Regions from separate parts of the Homo sapiens genome. Here region 2 is linked to region 1. A link means that fine-mapping ties the variant in region 1 to the expression of a gene that starts in the linked region. Tissue or cell type: whole blood. Region 1 holds a variant in brackets; the other region holds the start of a gene. All regions are shown on one strand. Distances are from middle to middle.

Region 1 (8,187 bases):
GATGAAAGAGTTAAACTCTGTCTCAAAAAAAAAAATAGAGAACAGAACATTCTCCAGTTATGGCCTCATTGTTTTGTTTGTTCTTGGCAAAGTTTCCACTGACATAACTCAGTAAACTTTTACATCTGAGTTCAATGGAGTGTTTTTAAATGGTTGTGGACAAGAGGTTCGTTCATTGTTGATGTAGAATTGAGTACAGAATATACTTTGCTTAAATTACTTTCACTATTTTTTCTCATAATATTCTTGAAAGTCATCTATTAATGCAGTTCTTACATAAAAGGAAGAGATAACTAAAAAGGATATAGAGCCAGGAAGTAAATTGTTTCCCCAAACACTTCAAACAATTTAAATGTTCAAATATAGAGTTATTTGTGAATTTGCAAAGTAGCAAATCAAATGGGTAATTCTCAAAGCCTTGTGTTTGAAGTGATGAGAAGCAAAGCCTTTTCAAGTTTATGTAAATAATTGACCACTTCCTTGAAAAAGTTTTAAGATTTCTCTAGAGACAAGGTGAATCATATCAAGTGGCCTAAATAAACTTTAGTTTTGAATGAGCAAATAGCTCAAGGCAAGGTGGTGGTTTTACCAAAGTAAAAAAAAGAAGAAGTTGTCAAGAATGAAGCTTGCCAAAAAATTTTCAAAAACTAAGATGGCAAGATTTTCTTTGGAGGGTTATGAAATGTTCTGAAGTTAGACAGTCTAGAATTAGATGGTTCAACAGCTGAGTGAATTTACTAAAAACACTGAATTTTACACTTTATCAGGGTGAATTTTATGTTATGTTAATTAAATTTCGGTGAAGCACTTATTAAATGAAATTGTAATAAGAGGATGTAAGAAGATTCAGTCACAAAATATACACATATACCACACAAATTTAAAATGCTTTTAGCTAAAATATTAAAAGACAAGCTAGTCACTTTGGAACCCAAATTCATTGTCTGAAAGATTTTTAAAAATCTTAAAGAGAAAGAAATGAAGATAAAGCAATCATGAGTGAAAAAAATAAACAAACTTGGATGATATAACCAGAAATAACACATAAATGAAATAATTTCAGAAGAACAAGATATATGCACTTTAAAAGTAATATGGAAAAGCAAGGGACCCAGAATAATCAAAAGAATCCTTAAAAAGAGGGACAAAATTGGAGGACTCACATTTACTTCAGAACTTACTACAAAGTTACAGTAGTCAAGCCAGCATGATACTGACATAAGGATAGACACATAGATCAATGGAATACAGTCAGTCTAGAAGCCAGCCTACATATGCAAGACATTATGGAGGGTCTTCAAAAAATTTAAAAATAGAACTACTATGTGATCCAGCAATCCCACTACCGGGTATATATCTAAAGGAATCGAAATTGGGATTTCAAAGAGCATTTGCACTCCTGTTCATTGCAGCATGAACCTAAGTAACCTAAATATTCATCATGGATGAATGGGTAAAGAAAATGTGTTATATATATACAGTGGAATATTGTTTAGCCCTAAGAAAGAAGGAAATCCTGCCATTTGTGACAACATGCATAAGCCTAGAGGACTTTATGCTAAGTGAAACAAGTTAGACACAGGAAGACAAGTACTACTTGATGCCACTTACATAAGGAATCTAAAATAGTTAAACTTGTAGAAGCAGAGAGTAGAATGGTGGTTGTCAGGAGCTGGGGAAAGGGGGATATAGGGAGCTATTAGCCAAAAGTTGCAAAGTTTCAGTTATAAAAGATGAGTAAGTCCTAGAGATCTACTGTATAACATAATACCTATAGTTAACAAAACTGTATTACATCTTAAAAATTTGCTAAGTGGGTAGATCTTATGTTTTATCACATACTACACACACACACATGCACACACACACATACACAAATAATTATAAATATAGAGGGTAGGAGGAAACTGTTTTGGAGGTGATGGGTATGTTTAGATTGTGGTAATGATTTCACAGATGTATATTTAGCCTCAAACTCATCAAGTTGCATACATTAAATATGTACAGCTTTTTGTATGTCAATCACACCCCAATAAAAGTTTTTTTAAAAATCCTGCACACACACACATATATACATGTGTATATATGTATATAAATATATACATGTATATAAATTTATTTTAGATAAGATTGCCGAGACAATTCCAATGGGGAAAAGAAGTCTTTCCAAACATGCTGCTGGGACAACTGGATCTCTACATGCAAAAGAATGAACTTGAACTACTATTTCACACTATATTAAAACAATTATCAATTATTTTGTGACTGAAGGCAATTAAGAAGCAGCAAATGGAAAAAGCTCTCGCTGTCTTCCCCTTTTCTGCCTCAAGGTAGGATATAAATTCTCGTTTACTGGACACAACTCTAGACTCTATTCACCCAGAGAAAGCACCAGAAGAATCTGCAAACAAACGTTACTTCATTAGTTTACCCCCATATAGTTATTTTCCCACTGTTTCCTACCCCGAAAGGAAATTGCCTTCCTTTGTCCTGTCATTTCTCTATAAATTTATTGTTCTTTGTTGAAGATGCGATACAAGCCAGAGTTCTAAGCAACTGCTTTGAGTTACTTTTCATTGAGGTTTTTCCTGCATGGTGTTCACTGTATGTGTTAATAAACTTGTTTGTTTTTTTCTTGTTGATCTGCTTTTGTTACAGGGGCTTGTCTCAACTGAGAACTTACACAGGGACAGGTAATCTGTAGCTTCCCTGACAACTGAAATGAAAGAGCTAAAATTACAAAACTCTTAAAAGAAAACATGGGATTTGCTATGGTTTGAATGTCCCACCAAAACTCATGGTCAAATTTAATTGCCATTGGGGTAGTACTAGGAGGTAAGACCTTTAAGAGGTGTAGATCATGAGGGTTCTGCCCTTGTGAACGGATTAATGCTGTTATCAGGGTAGTGGATTAGTTATTGAGGGAGAGGACTCCAGCATAAGTTTGACCTCCATTTTCTCCCTGTCTCATTTGTCACCTGCCTTTCTGCTTTCAGCCATGGTGTGATGCAACAAGAAAGCCCTCACCAGATGGCTAAGCAGATGCTGGCACCATGCCTTTGGACTTCCCAGCCTCCAAAACTGTGAGCCAAATAATCTTTTGTGTATAAATTATCAAGTCTGTGATACTCCGTTATAGCAGCAGAAAACAGACTAAGACAAGATTAAATCTTTGTGACCTTGGGCTAATCAATGATTTCTTAACTATGACAATCACATATCGGATAAGAGCCTTAATTCACAATATATAAAGAACTTTTATAATTTAACAATGAAAAGACAACACAATTTTAAAAGGGCAAAGTATTTGAATAGACATTTCTCCAAATAAGTTATATAAATGGCCAATGAGCACGTGGAAAGATGCTCAACATCTGTTTGACATTAGGCAAATGCAAATCAAAACCACATTCACTAGGATAGCTACAGTAATTAAAAAAGGAATGATAGTAAGTGGTGAGGATGTGGAGAAATTGGAACCCTCATATATTGTTGGTGGGTATGTAAAATGATGCAACCACCGTGGAAAGCAGCTTGACAGCTCCTCATAAAGTTAAACATGGTGGTACCACAGGACCCAG[C/A]AATTCTACTCTTAGCTATATATGTCCAAGAGAGATGGAAATTTAAGTCCACACAAAAATTTAATTTGCCATTTTCATGGCAGCATCATATATAATGGCCAAATATTGGAAACAACCCAAATGTTCATCATCTGATGAATGGATCAACAAAATGAGGTATATCTATACAATGAAATAGGATTTGGCAACAGAAGAAAGAATGGAGTACTGACACAGGCTACATCATGGATGATCCTTGTAAATACTAAATAAAAAAAGCAAGTCATAAAAGATCACATATTGTATGATTTTATTTATGAGAAATGTCTAGAGTAGGCAAATCTACAGAGACAAAAAGTACATTAGTGGGCACCTAGGGCCAAAGAGGGGAGAGAGAATGGGCAGTGATGGCAGCAGGGTGTTTGGAGGAGGGCTGGTGATGAAAATGCTCTAAAGTTATAGAGATGTTTGCACAAATATATTAATATATTTTAAAACATTGAATTGTATATGTTAAATGATTGAATTTTATGGTATGTGACACATGTCAAGAAAGATGTTTTTAAAAATAGTTCAGGAAAATGGATATATATACAAATTATGCAACTAGTTCACTTTCCAGAATCCCATAAATTAAAACTCCTATGACTTGTAAATCTTCTAGATCTTAGACCGGATTATCATAAGCCTATTCTTAACTAGAAATTTCCTGGACACATGCCAAGGAATAAAAACTCTTGGCTGGGTGCGGCGCCTTAGAAACCCTGAGAGACAAGTATTATCTTCTAATCAACAAAACTGGTAGATGATTAAATTATTGGTTCAGAGTACAGGCTTTTTGCTAGACAGAAACATCCAAAACTTAATACTTAATAAAGGAAATTAAGAACAGAGATTTTTCATAGTGGAAACCTTGTTAAGATTACCGAGGCTTACAGGAGATAGTACCAGAGCATGCATGTATTTGGCAGCTACTGAGAGTCTGCTATTTGCCAGAAGATATTAGACACTGGAAAGAAATGTTTAAAAGGCTGAGTCCCTGCCCTAAGGGAGCTTATGGTCCAGGGAAGAGACACAAATGCGTTTCATATCACATGTTAAGTGCTGCGGGGAGGGTATGCAAGGAAACGAAGGGACAGAGAAGAGAGTTGGTCACCCTGGTTGGGAGACCAGAGATGCCTCCTCAGAGGAGTTTCTAGGAGAGGATCAGGGTTGGAGCAGGTGTGGGATTTCAAAGCACAGCCATCTGGAATGTGCACTCAGAAAGAAGAAAACCTCAGGGGACAAGGAGAGCCAGTGTCTGAAAAATGGCGCAAAAGGCTGTTCTCTTCTGTTATGCTATGTTTATGTTTCTTTGAGGAGGGAACTGTGTAAGAGGTAATGTGTGGTAACGTATTAGCACTTGAGAAGGAAATGCCTTTGACTCAGTGCAATTTCTTCCCCAGTAAGAATAATCTCCAAAGACTGCTAAAAATATAGAGGAGAAGCAAAGTGAAGTCTTCGTTTTTTCTTTTTTCATCTCTTCACAGCAGGTGAATTAACCCAAAATTCGTCATCATAGGAGCAGCAGTTCTTTTTTAACCTCACATACAATTTTACATTTTCCTTAAAAACTCTTTATTTCAAATACACACAAATGGAGAGAGGAGTGTGATAAAACCCCATATTCCTGCTGGCTTAGTCTGTTTTGTGTTGCTATAAAGGCGTACCTGTGGCTGGGTGGTTTGTAAGGAAAGAGGTTGAGTTAGTTCATGTTCTGCAGCCTGTGCAAGAAGCATGGTGCTGGCATCTGCTCTGCTTCTGGTGAGGACTTTTGTGCTCCATCAAAACATGGTGCAGAAGGTCAAATGGCAGGCAGGCAGGTGCAAAGATGGATCAAACCTGGGGGGCCTCTTGGCTTTAGAGCAACACACTCCCTTGGGAACTAATCCATCCCCTCAAAACCAATCCATCTCGGGACAGCATGAGAACTTACTCACTACCCTGAGAACAGCACCAAACCATTCATAACCCATGACCTGAACTCCTCCCACTGCACCCCACATCCCAACATCACCACACTGGGGATCAAATTTCAACATAATATTTGGTGGGGAACATACAAGTCATATTCAATCCATAGCAGCAGCCATCCAGATTTTAAAATAATCAACATTTTGCCCACTTGAATCACCTGTTTGCACCCCTTTTTTGTTGAAGAATTTTAAAGCAAATTCCAGGCAAAATGGCACTTACCACCTAGTATTTCAATGTGTCCCTAAAAGAGGGAAATATAACCAGTTACCACTATCACACCTAAATTCATAACAATAATTAATTAATATCTAATTCCCAGTCCATCCATATTCAAAGTTCATTGACTGTTTAATAAACTTGTTTTTTTTTTTTTTTTTTTGGACGGAGTTTTGCTCTTGTTGCCCAGGCTGGAGTGTAATGGCGTGATCTTGGCTTGCTGCAACCTCTGCCTCCCAGGTTCAAGTGATTCTCCTGTCTCAGCCTCCCGAGTAGCTGAGATTACAGGCGCCTGCCACCACGCCTGGCTAATTTTTGTATTTTTAGTAGAGACAGGGTTTCATCATATTGGTCTGGCTGGTCTCGAACTCCTGACCTCAGGTGATCCGCCCGCCTCAGCCTCCCAAAGTGCTGGGATTACAGATGTGAGCTACTGTGCCTGGCCAATAAATGTCTTTTTAAGATGATTTTTTTTTCCAAATCAAGATCCAAGCGAGACTCACATGTTACATTCAGTTGTCATGCCCCCTTGTACATCTGTAGCAAGCCCCTCTCCCCTCTTCTTTTCCCTTCCCATTGACTTAACTGAAAAAACCTGGTGTAATTGTCCCATAGAACAATGTGCATAGAATATACATTGTTCCACATTCTAGGTTTGCCTGATTACTTCCTCATGGTGACAGCATCATTCAACCAGCTCTTCTTCTTTGTATTTTTAGTAGAGACGCGGTTTCACCATGTTGGCCAGATGGTCTCGATCTCTTGACCTCGTGATCCACCCGCCTCAGCCTCCCAAAGTGATGGGATTACAGGCATGAGCCACCACACCTGGCCGAAATGTATTTCTTAAGTAATAAGATTTGAAAGTTGAAATTACTCCTTGATTCATTGGCTACAGAATGGATGTTGTGTTGAATAACATTCATCTCATTGTACATCTCTGTCAGAGCTCTTGAGTGACTAGATGCACTGTCAGTGAGTGATAATATTTGGAAAGAAATCTTTTTTTTTCTGAGCATTAAGTCTCAATAGCGGACTTAAAATATTCAGCAATTCATGCTATACACAGATGTGCTGTCATCCAGGTTTTGTTGTTCCACTTAAAGAGTGCAGGCAGAGCAGATTTAGCATAATTCTTCCTAGAGTTTTCAAAATGGCAAATGAGCATTCGCTACAATGTTAGGTCACTAGCTGCAATAGCCCCAATCAAAAGAGTCAGCTATTGCTTGAAGCTTTGAAGCCAGGCACTGACTTTTCTTCTCCAGCTATGAAAGTTCTGAAGAGCATCTTCTTCTAATATAAGACTGCTTTTTGTCCACAGACAATATGTTTCTTTTGCCCTCTTCATCAGTGATCTTAGCTGGCTTTTCTGGATAACGCTGCAGCTTCTCCATCAGCACTTGCTGCCTCACCTCGTACTTTTATGTTATGGAGATGGCTTCCTTCCTTAAGCTTCATGAGCCGACCTCTGTTAGCTCCAACTTTTCTTCTGCAGCTTACTCATCTCTCTCAGCCTTCGTAGAATTGAAGAAAGTTAGGGTGTTGCTCTGGATTAGGCTTTTGCTTAAGGGAATGTTGCGCCTGGCTTGATCTTCTATTGAGTCCACTCAAACTTTTTCCATACCAGCAATAGGGCTGTTTTACTTAGCGTTTGTGTGTCCACCCGAGTAGCACTTACTTTCCTTCAAGAACTTTTCCTTTGCATTCACAAGTTGGCTGTTTGCTGCAAAGGTCAAGTTTGGTGCAAAAGAAAAGTTCTTGGAAAGTAAAAGTGCTACTCTGCTACCTTGGTTGTCAACACGCCTTCCATGCTAAATGTAATCATTTCTAGAATTGGATTTAAAGTGAGAGATGTGTGACTTTTATTTTCACTTGAACACATAGAGACCATTGTGGAGTTACTAACTGACCTGATTTCAATATTATTGTATCTCAGGGAATAGGGAGACCTGAGAAGCAGGAGAGAGATGAGGAATGGCTGGTTGGTAGAGCAGTCATGGTAAAACATACATTTATTGATTAAGTTCATCATCTTATATGAACGTGGTTCATGGCACCCCCCAAAAACTACAATAATAGCATCAAAGATCACTGATCACAGATCACCATAATAGATAAAATATGAAAAAGTTTGAAATATTGTGATAATTGCCAAAATGTGACACAGAGACATGAGATGAGCACCTGTTGTGGAAAGTTGGCACCTATAGACTTGCTTAACACACAGCTGCCACAAAACCTCAATTTGTAAAAAACATCCGCATCTGCATAGCATCATAAAGTGAAGTGCAATAAAATAAAATATGCCTTTATTCAATGTTTTTCAACCAGTTGTAGTCATTACTGTTTTCACATCCTCAGATGTCACATTTGACAACGGAAAACCTTCAAGTGG
Region 2 (8,187 bases), 46 kb before region 1:
TCCTACCTCAGCCTCCCCAGTAGCTAGGACTACAGGCACATGCCACCACACAGGGTTAATTTTTGTATTTTTTTGTAGAGATGGGTTTTGCCATGTTGCCCAGGCTGGTCTTGAACTTCTGGGCTCCAGTGATCCTTCCGCCGATGTGCTGGGATTACAGGCATGAGCCACTGCCCCCAGCCTAGGTTTTCTTTTAGATAGAACCAAAATATGGTCCTTTCAAAGTCTGTGTGAATTATGAATCAGAATAAAATGAAAAAGAAAATTTAATACCCTATTCAATAAATATAATTAAAAAGTATTATCCTGTGTATTTTGAATCTCTGAAATAACTATAGAATCCAAAGAAATAGTGAAAAATTTAAACAGTACTCAGAGCTTTATCCTAAAGTCAGATAATTAGTAGGAAGCATAGCTGATAAACTGTACAAGGTCAGTGAAGAGCCTTCCAGTTGGTGTGAAGTCCAGCCTAGCTCTTCAGCTATTACTCAGAGTGGGACACTCATCTGGATGAAGAAAGCCAGTGGCACACCCTGATTCACTTAAAAATATATACTACTTTTATGTGTAAAAGTGCATGAAGAGTGAAATACTACTGATTAAGTGGCACACACAGATTTTATTTTCACTTAAGAAGTATTAATGAAAGCCCATGAATGTAACACAATACATTCCTAAACACCTGGATTTCCTGGAGACTGACTATATCACCATATTCACTTGTCTGCTTCCCTGTTCTTACCAGGTCCTCTCATCTAAGATGAACTTCAACTATAGAGTCAAGCCCAGCAACAGTAAGAATAAGGCTGGGAAGCTAAGCAAGAGCCAGAGCATTGTTGGTTTCTTCCTACTTTGGAGATTTTGTGTTTTAAATTAACTTTAAAAGAACAGGGAACACAACAAAATCTAGAGAAATGCACTGAAAAATCTAGAGAAATGTGTTAGAAATGCACTTTAAAAAGAGGGCTCACTGAAACTAATGAAAAGCAAGGCCGGGGTGCTTGTCTCTTCTAGGGGAGTCAGGAAAGGCTTCACAAAAGTGACCCCAGTTTTAGAACGAGAGGTACAGAGACAAATTCAAAAGTTTCTGCAGAATATAGAAGGCTGCAGTTGATCTTCCCACGGGAGGCAGACAGGCAATCCTCCTCCCAGAGCAAGCTACAAGGACGTGCAAATTGTGCACTCACAGGGGTCACACGGTGCACTCATAGGGCCCCGTATTCAGAAGGAAGGGCCTGGCACTTGCTTTAACGCTATGCCTGCGCTAGCGTTATCCTCTTTCTCTGCTGACATCCAGTCAGAGGCCTACTAACTCTTCCTTCTAAATGTTCTGCTAACTGTCCTCTTCTCCACTTAAACTACTTATCGACTCCAACTTAAGCAGCAGCCTCCTAATGGGCCTTGTGTTTACCCTCAAACTATTTTATAAGATGACTGGTCTTTCTAAATGGCATGTCTGATCCTGCATAAAATCATTTCCCTTTGTAATTGATAATCCAATGATGTCAGCATTAGTAAATAATGACTGACTTCAGCAAGGCATAGTGGGTGTATTATTTTGTTGGCTCAACACCTGTACTTCAGGCACGCCATTCCGCTTCTTCTGGTAACCCAACCCAACCCTCTACGAGAATGTCCTTCCCATGCAAGCTGGCACCTGAACCTAGCTGGGCAAATCAGAGCCTTTCCCTGGCATTTTGTTAGAATGGAGGAGGCTGCAAGATGTCAAAACTCAGAAGCTGTCAGCATCCATGATTCCTGCCAAGTGTGGAAAGCTGTCAATACCCAGACAGAAATAAGAAATGGAGAGTCCTAGCAGTTTGGGTTCCTGGTTCTAGCCTCTTGAGACCCAGCTGGCATCTATAATTTTCTGTTTAACTCTGGTTTTTCTGAGACAATAAATTCCTCTTTTTGCTTAAGTTAATAAAGCTAGGTTTCTTGCTGGTACACATAATATGGCAATTCATTATTTGGTTCCTACTTCTCCACCTAACCTATCTCCTCCCCTTGTAAGCTCTCACACACACTTTACAATAGAACGCTTAATATTCCACGAATTCAACATGCTATCACACCTCTGCACCTCAGTCTCTGCACCTCTGGTTCCAACACTGGGGTCACCTTTGTGAAGTCTTCACTGACTTCCCTAAAAGAGACAAGCACCCCGCCTTGCTTTCCACTAGTCTGTGCCTAAGTGCAAGCTCTTACCGCAAAGTACTGCAACTGCCCATGTGGATGACTGACTAGAGCCTAGAAGAGCAGTTAAGAACTTGGACTCTGGAGCCAAATTGAGCAGCTCCCCACTGAGTGGCTATGACCTCTCTGCCAGTTGGGCAGGCCTCTCCGTAACTCAATTTCTCGTCCATAAAGAGAGAGACAAATAACGCCTACTCCAGAAGATTGTTGTGAACACAGAACCAAAACGTGGACCTTTCAAAGTCCCTATGAATCATAAATCATAATAAAAAAAAGAAAACTGAATTGAAAAGGTTTACTGTTTTCTCTGGAGCTCGTAATCACAATTACTCTGCACTTCAGAAAAGCCACCCTCAACATTTGTTTTCTAGGAAATGTCAATAAGCAGGTGGAAATAAAATGCTCCGAAGAACAAACCCGTACGAAGAGACCTACTGCCAAATCTGCTAGTGAGTGCCGGCAATCCACCACTTCCAGACTGAGACCTAAGACGGACTGCCACTTACTTCTCAGCTGCCACTTACTTCTCAGCTGGCGACATAATGCATACTTTCCTACCCTAAGCACTTTGAGTCCCCCCCCCCACCCCCGCTAAGAAAGAAGTATTTAAGCCACGAACTGAGACCACGATGCCACATGCTGATCAGGACACTCACAGTCATGCGTCACTTAACGATGGAGATCCGTTCTGAGAAATGGAGAAATGTCCCCTTAGGCAATTTCTTCGGGCAGTAGAAACCCAGACAAACCCAGATGACACAGCCTACTGCTCTTAGGTCATGAACCTGTACAGCCTGTCACTGCACTGAACACTGCAGGCAACCGTAGCATACTAGTGAGTATCTGCGTATCTAACCATAAAAAAAGGTACAGTAAGAAGACGATATTATAATCTTTGAGACCACGCTGTCCCACATTGACCAGCAACGTCCTTCTGCAGCGCATAATCGTATTTAAAAGTGGATTACAAGAGTCGGAAAAACAAGCGGCGTGATTTGTTGTGGCGGCAACCAGGGAAGAGGCAGGAGAAAGGCAACCGACGAGTTCAAACCACGGAGCCCCAGTCTCGCGACCCCACCTCGCGTCCCCGTCGCCCGCTCAGGGCCCGACGCAGGGGTCCCGGGCTAGGGCGACCTCGGAGAAGCGGGGCGGGGCTTCCCGGCTGGGGCGGATCCCTCCCTCCCTCTCGTCCCGACCCGGCCGCAGCCCTGCCGCGAACGACGGTACCTGAGGACGGCCCCAGATCCGCGGTGCCCATCTCAGCCCTGCTCACACCCTGCATGACAAGGGGTAGGAGAAAGAGGAGAGCCATGCTGCTACCGACGGTCGCTGGCTCCAACCCCGAGCGCCTGCGGGACCAGCCCAGCACTGCCCTCCAGCCCCGGCCTTACGTCACTTCCGTCACCGGGGTCTGTGCCGGCGTCGGCAGGAGGCGGGACCAGGGCGTGGGCGGGGTCAAGTCCGGGAAGCCGCAGGAGGCGGACTCAGGCGCAGCACCCAGCAGTGAGCACGGCGTCGTGCGGTCGGGACCTGGACTTCTGGGTGTGGGAGGAATTTGAGTGCAAAGGTTAAGGTCTTTCAACCTGGCACCCCATTCTGCAATTCTTCTTCCAGTTTTTTTCGGTTTCCTGGGGTTGTGCAAGTTTGCATTAGGCCACAGCCGAGCCACAATCCTTATTTTACTAACTCTTGGACTTCACCTGGTTGTCTTGGAGCCTGACATTTTTAGAAGAGAATGAGACTTCAAAAGCCATTTCCAGTCCCTGCTTTTTCATTTGAGGAACCTGAGACTTAGCTAGTGAAATGGTTTGTGCAGATTCCCACAGCCCAAATCAAATCGGCTTGACCAAGAACTACTTTGTTCTTGGAGAAAAAAACTATTTGCATTACCTTCTCAGCAATTCAGTGTCAAATCAGTTTATCAGGCAGCCTCTCATGAAGAGGTCTGCTCTCTTACCTCTCTGGGTTTGTCTGTTATTTTGCATCTCTCCTATTCCACTGCAGCCACATTGCTAAGTCCTTCAGCGCTTGTGCTCAAACATGCGAATGTCTAATGATCTCACCTGTTTCAATTCTCTGAGTATCATGAACTTTTGTTAAAAATTTTAAATTGCAACACACCTTCTCCTCCTCCTTACCCCGCCCTACTGTTTTTTCATGGCACTTTTCACCTTGCTGTACACTATAATATACACCTTGATATTTGTTTTCTTCTCCTTCTAAAATGTAAGCTCCGTAGAGCTGACATCTTTACTTGGCACTCAATTAGTATTTGTTGAGTGAAAGACTGCATGATTACTAGTGTTAAGGAAAATTTTTAAAGAGGGAAAATCCTTATAAAGACACTATATAAACTAGAGGTATTATCAGCCAGATCATTTTACTTGTATTAATAAATCTCTTAGCTCAGTACTTCTCAAACTTCAACATACATGTGAACCATCTGGGGATCTTGATAAAATGCAGATTTGGATTCAGTAGTTCTAATTCAGGTTGGGTCTTGAGATTTTGTATTTCGGACAAAATGCACAGGGGATGCTGGTGCCCCTTTCAACAGGACCACACTTTGAATCAGAAGAATTTAGCTCAATCTAGACTAAGTTTAGGGAGAATATTTCCTTTGATGTGTTTCTGATGTCCACTATATGAAAGACACCTTCTAGTCGTTGTAAGGATGCAAGGATAAATAACTGATCTTTACCGTTTAGGCGTCTATGGAGTAGGACAAAATATGATATCCAGTTTGTAAACATTTTTGTGGTACTTGTCACAGGCTGGGTTACCCTGGCAGTAAACTCTGAGGTCGAGATTAAGGTATAAGGCATTGATTGATTAGGGAGTGCTCTTGGAATAAACGTCTGTGAAGGGGAGGTGGAGGAAGCAGAGCGGAGGAAGAAGTTGATCTGTGATGCCATCCCAGTAAAGGCTCCCAAGGGGCGCTCTGGAGTTGGGATGGCCTTGTAAAGGTGTCTTGAGTTGGTATGAGGGGCTGGGTCTTAAAGCCCAGCACTGATTAGTCATTGAATACCAACTGTCATGATTTTGGGGCTGTCCATTTCTTTCATGGAGGCATTCCCCAGAGGAACGCTGACGGTTGAGGGTGTCTACTGGCAGCCCTCCTAGCATCAGGAAGGGGACAGAACCCAGTCTTCTGTTCCTGAGAGGGATCTGGGCAAGTTTCACAATCACAGCACCCACCACCCTACGTATCCTTCTGAAGACTTTGCTAGTTAGTCATTTGGAGACTAAATATATTTATTAATTGGGTGAATATTATCAAGTGATACTGTCTGTGACTGACATGACCAGGCACAGAGATAAAGACCTGAGCAAGACAGACATGGCCCCTGCCCTCACGGAGCTTACTGTCTACTGAGGGAGATAGCTGTTAAACAAGGAATTACACAAGTACTGAAATCGTGATCATCATTCCCAAGGAGAGCAATGGGAAGAGATTAAAGGAGTATAAACAGGAATTTAACTTAGTCTACATTTTAAAGAAAGTCTTTCTTTTCTTTTTTCTTTCTTTTGAGACAGGGTCTCACTCTGTCGTCTAGGCTGCAGTGCAGAGGCATGATCATAGCTTACTGCAGCCTCAAACTCCTGGGCCCAAATGATCCTCTTGCCCCAGCCTCCCAAATAGCTGGGACTACAGGTGTACACCACCATGCCTGGCTAATTTTTTTTTTTTTTTTTGAGACAGGGTCTGACTGTATCACCTAGCTGAGGTACAGTGGCACAATCTCAGCTGACTGCAACCTCCACCTCCCGGGCGCAAGCCATCCTTCCACCTCAGCCTCCCAAGTAGCTGGGACCACAGGCATTTTTTTGTGTCTTTTGTGGAGATGGGGTTTCACCATGTTGCCCAGGCTGATCTCAAACTCCTGAGCTCAAGCAATCCGCCCACCTTGGCCTCCCAAAGTGCTGGGATTACAGGAGTGAGCCACCTCGCCTGGCCTTATGCCCGGCTAGTTTTTAAATTTTTTATAGAGCTGGGGTCTTGCTGTGTTGCTCAGGCTGGTCTCAAACTCCTGGGCTCAAATGATTCTCCTGCCTCAGGCTCCCAAAATGCTGGGATTACAGGTGTGAGCCACTGTGTCTGGATTTAGGGAAATTCTTTTTTAAGGAAGTTACCATTATGTTGTGACCTGAAGGATAAGGTAAAATTAGCCTGAATAAAGTTAAAAGATGGGGGTGGCCACCGGCTAATAAGAGAGGTAGGAAGAAGAGCAATAAACTGTATTTTAAAATCCCATATAAAAATCTCATACAGCTAACACAGAAACAAATGAGCGGTGCCAGCTTTCCTTGATAAATTTCCAATGCCTAATGGCTGGGGAATATCCAAGTATACGTTGGTCCCCACTAGAGCCTCAGATTAGTTTTTAAAATGAAGAAAACAAATTGGGGTGGAGCGTAGATCATTCCAAAGCCAAGTGTATACTGAAGTGCTGCTGCTCAGGAGCAAGGCTACATTTTGAAGACCATACTCACCTGCCTTTCAAGTTAATAGGCCAAATAAAACAATTTAAGAAGCTAGAAATATGATCCAATGAGAACAGAGCCTGTGTGTGTGGAACAAACTGTGCATTTTGGCTCTGAGCACAGTGCATTTCCTTCCTCTTTTCTCCAAAGCAGAAATGTCTGCCAGCTTCCCTTTAAAGGAGACAGCGTGAAGATTTGTAACTGAAGCATATAGTTTAAATTCCGCTGATTAGTCTGTAAATTATAGCCAATACTCTTGCCCTCTCACACTCTACCCATGCCTTTACACTGGCCCTTATTTAACTTTGTTTATTCCATAGTACTTACTACTATCTGGAGATTCTACTGGAAATTTAATATATCTATTAAATTTGAATTAAATATGAATAAATTGTATGTGTTAAATATATGCATTTTATATATATATATATTTCACAAATAATTACTGAAATTGTAGTAATTGTTACCAAGGAGAGCAACACGATTATAGGTGCGTAAACAGGGACTTAATCTGAGATTTAATGAAATGCATCCGTGTGTGTGTGCATACATAAAATATGTATATACACACGTAGAAAATTTTGTTTCAGTAGTCTCCCTCTTCCTCTAAAAAATAAATTTGTTTTCTTCACTGTCAGACCCCGAGCACCTAGCCAAGTGCCTATTACTCCATTAATATTTATGGAATATTGATGATCCTGAATCATCAATTGTATGTAATCCTGAATCATCACTGTCAGCATTGAGCAGCTGAACCAATGTCTGTGGCCACTTATTAAATAAATATATGATGAACAAAACAAGCTTGTAAAGAGGTGTGGGACTGAAGCAGGTATAGTTGAATTTATGGCTGGCTAAGCTATAATTGGGTCACTGATAAGAATTTAGAGAGATATTTGGATATCATACTGGTACTCAACAAAGCACTATCCTCTTGCCTTGCACTCAACCCTCCTCTTAGCTCTCATGCTGACATCCGATTGTATCAGACCAACCCCTGGCTTGAAGATGTTTATCCATAGACAGTCAAGTATTCTAGTAGTTGGCTTGTCTTAGAGCACTGCCTAGGGTAGATGCCACATGCTGCGTGGTGACTGTGGCAGATACTACTCATTAGCTGACTGCTAACAGCTCTTTTCGGTCCCCTTCTATCTTGCTGCCTCCCTACTGCAGAGGCTAGACAGGCTCATTACTCACTTTCCCAGCCTTTTTGGCAGCTAAGTGTAGGTATATGATGTAGTTTTGGTCAGCGAAACACAAGCAGAAGTCTGTGAGGCATGTGTGTGTGTGGTGGTCATCAGGTGTATAATGGGGAAGAGGATTGGAAAGCATTCTGTGAGAACTTTTCCTTTCTCATAGAAGGGGCAGATGCAATGGGAGAGTTTGCTGGCCTTGGCCCTTTTCCAATCTTCTTGCCTTGAATGTAGATCCAGTGACGCCTAGATCTGCAGCAGATCTTGGCAGTTTGCAACCATGAGGCAACAAGATTGAAGATGAAAAGTCAAC

Evidence for each region. PIP is the estimated chance that this variant, and not a neighbour inherited with it, causes the effect.
Region 2: it holds the start of IFNGR1, and the variant in region 1 is fine-mapped to the expression of IFNGR1 in whole blood (TOPMed, PIP above 0.99).

The regions. Positions count from the first base shown.
Region 1 is chr6:137,261,464-137,269,650 of GRCh38, forward strand. No RefSeq gene overlaps it. Among named protein-coding and RNA genes, the nearest start is that of IFNGR1, 46 kb to the left of the region's middle. The variant C/A (reference allele first, on the strand shown) is at 3,582.
Region 2 is chr6:137,215,820-137,224,006 of GRCh38, forward strand. It overlaps IFNGR1 (interferon gamma receptor 1), which reads right to left and starts at 3,566. Exons shown (of 7, transcript NM_000416.3): 1 at 3,424-3,566. The coding sequence starts at 3,508. RefSeq lists enhancers at 1,706-1,765, 3,206-3,936, 3,787-4,036 and silencers at 2,747-2,796, 3,257-3,476, 3,517-3,746.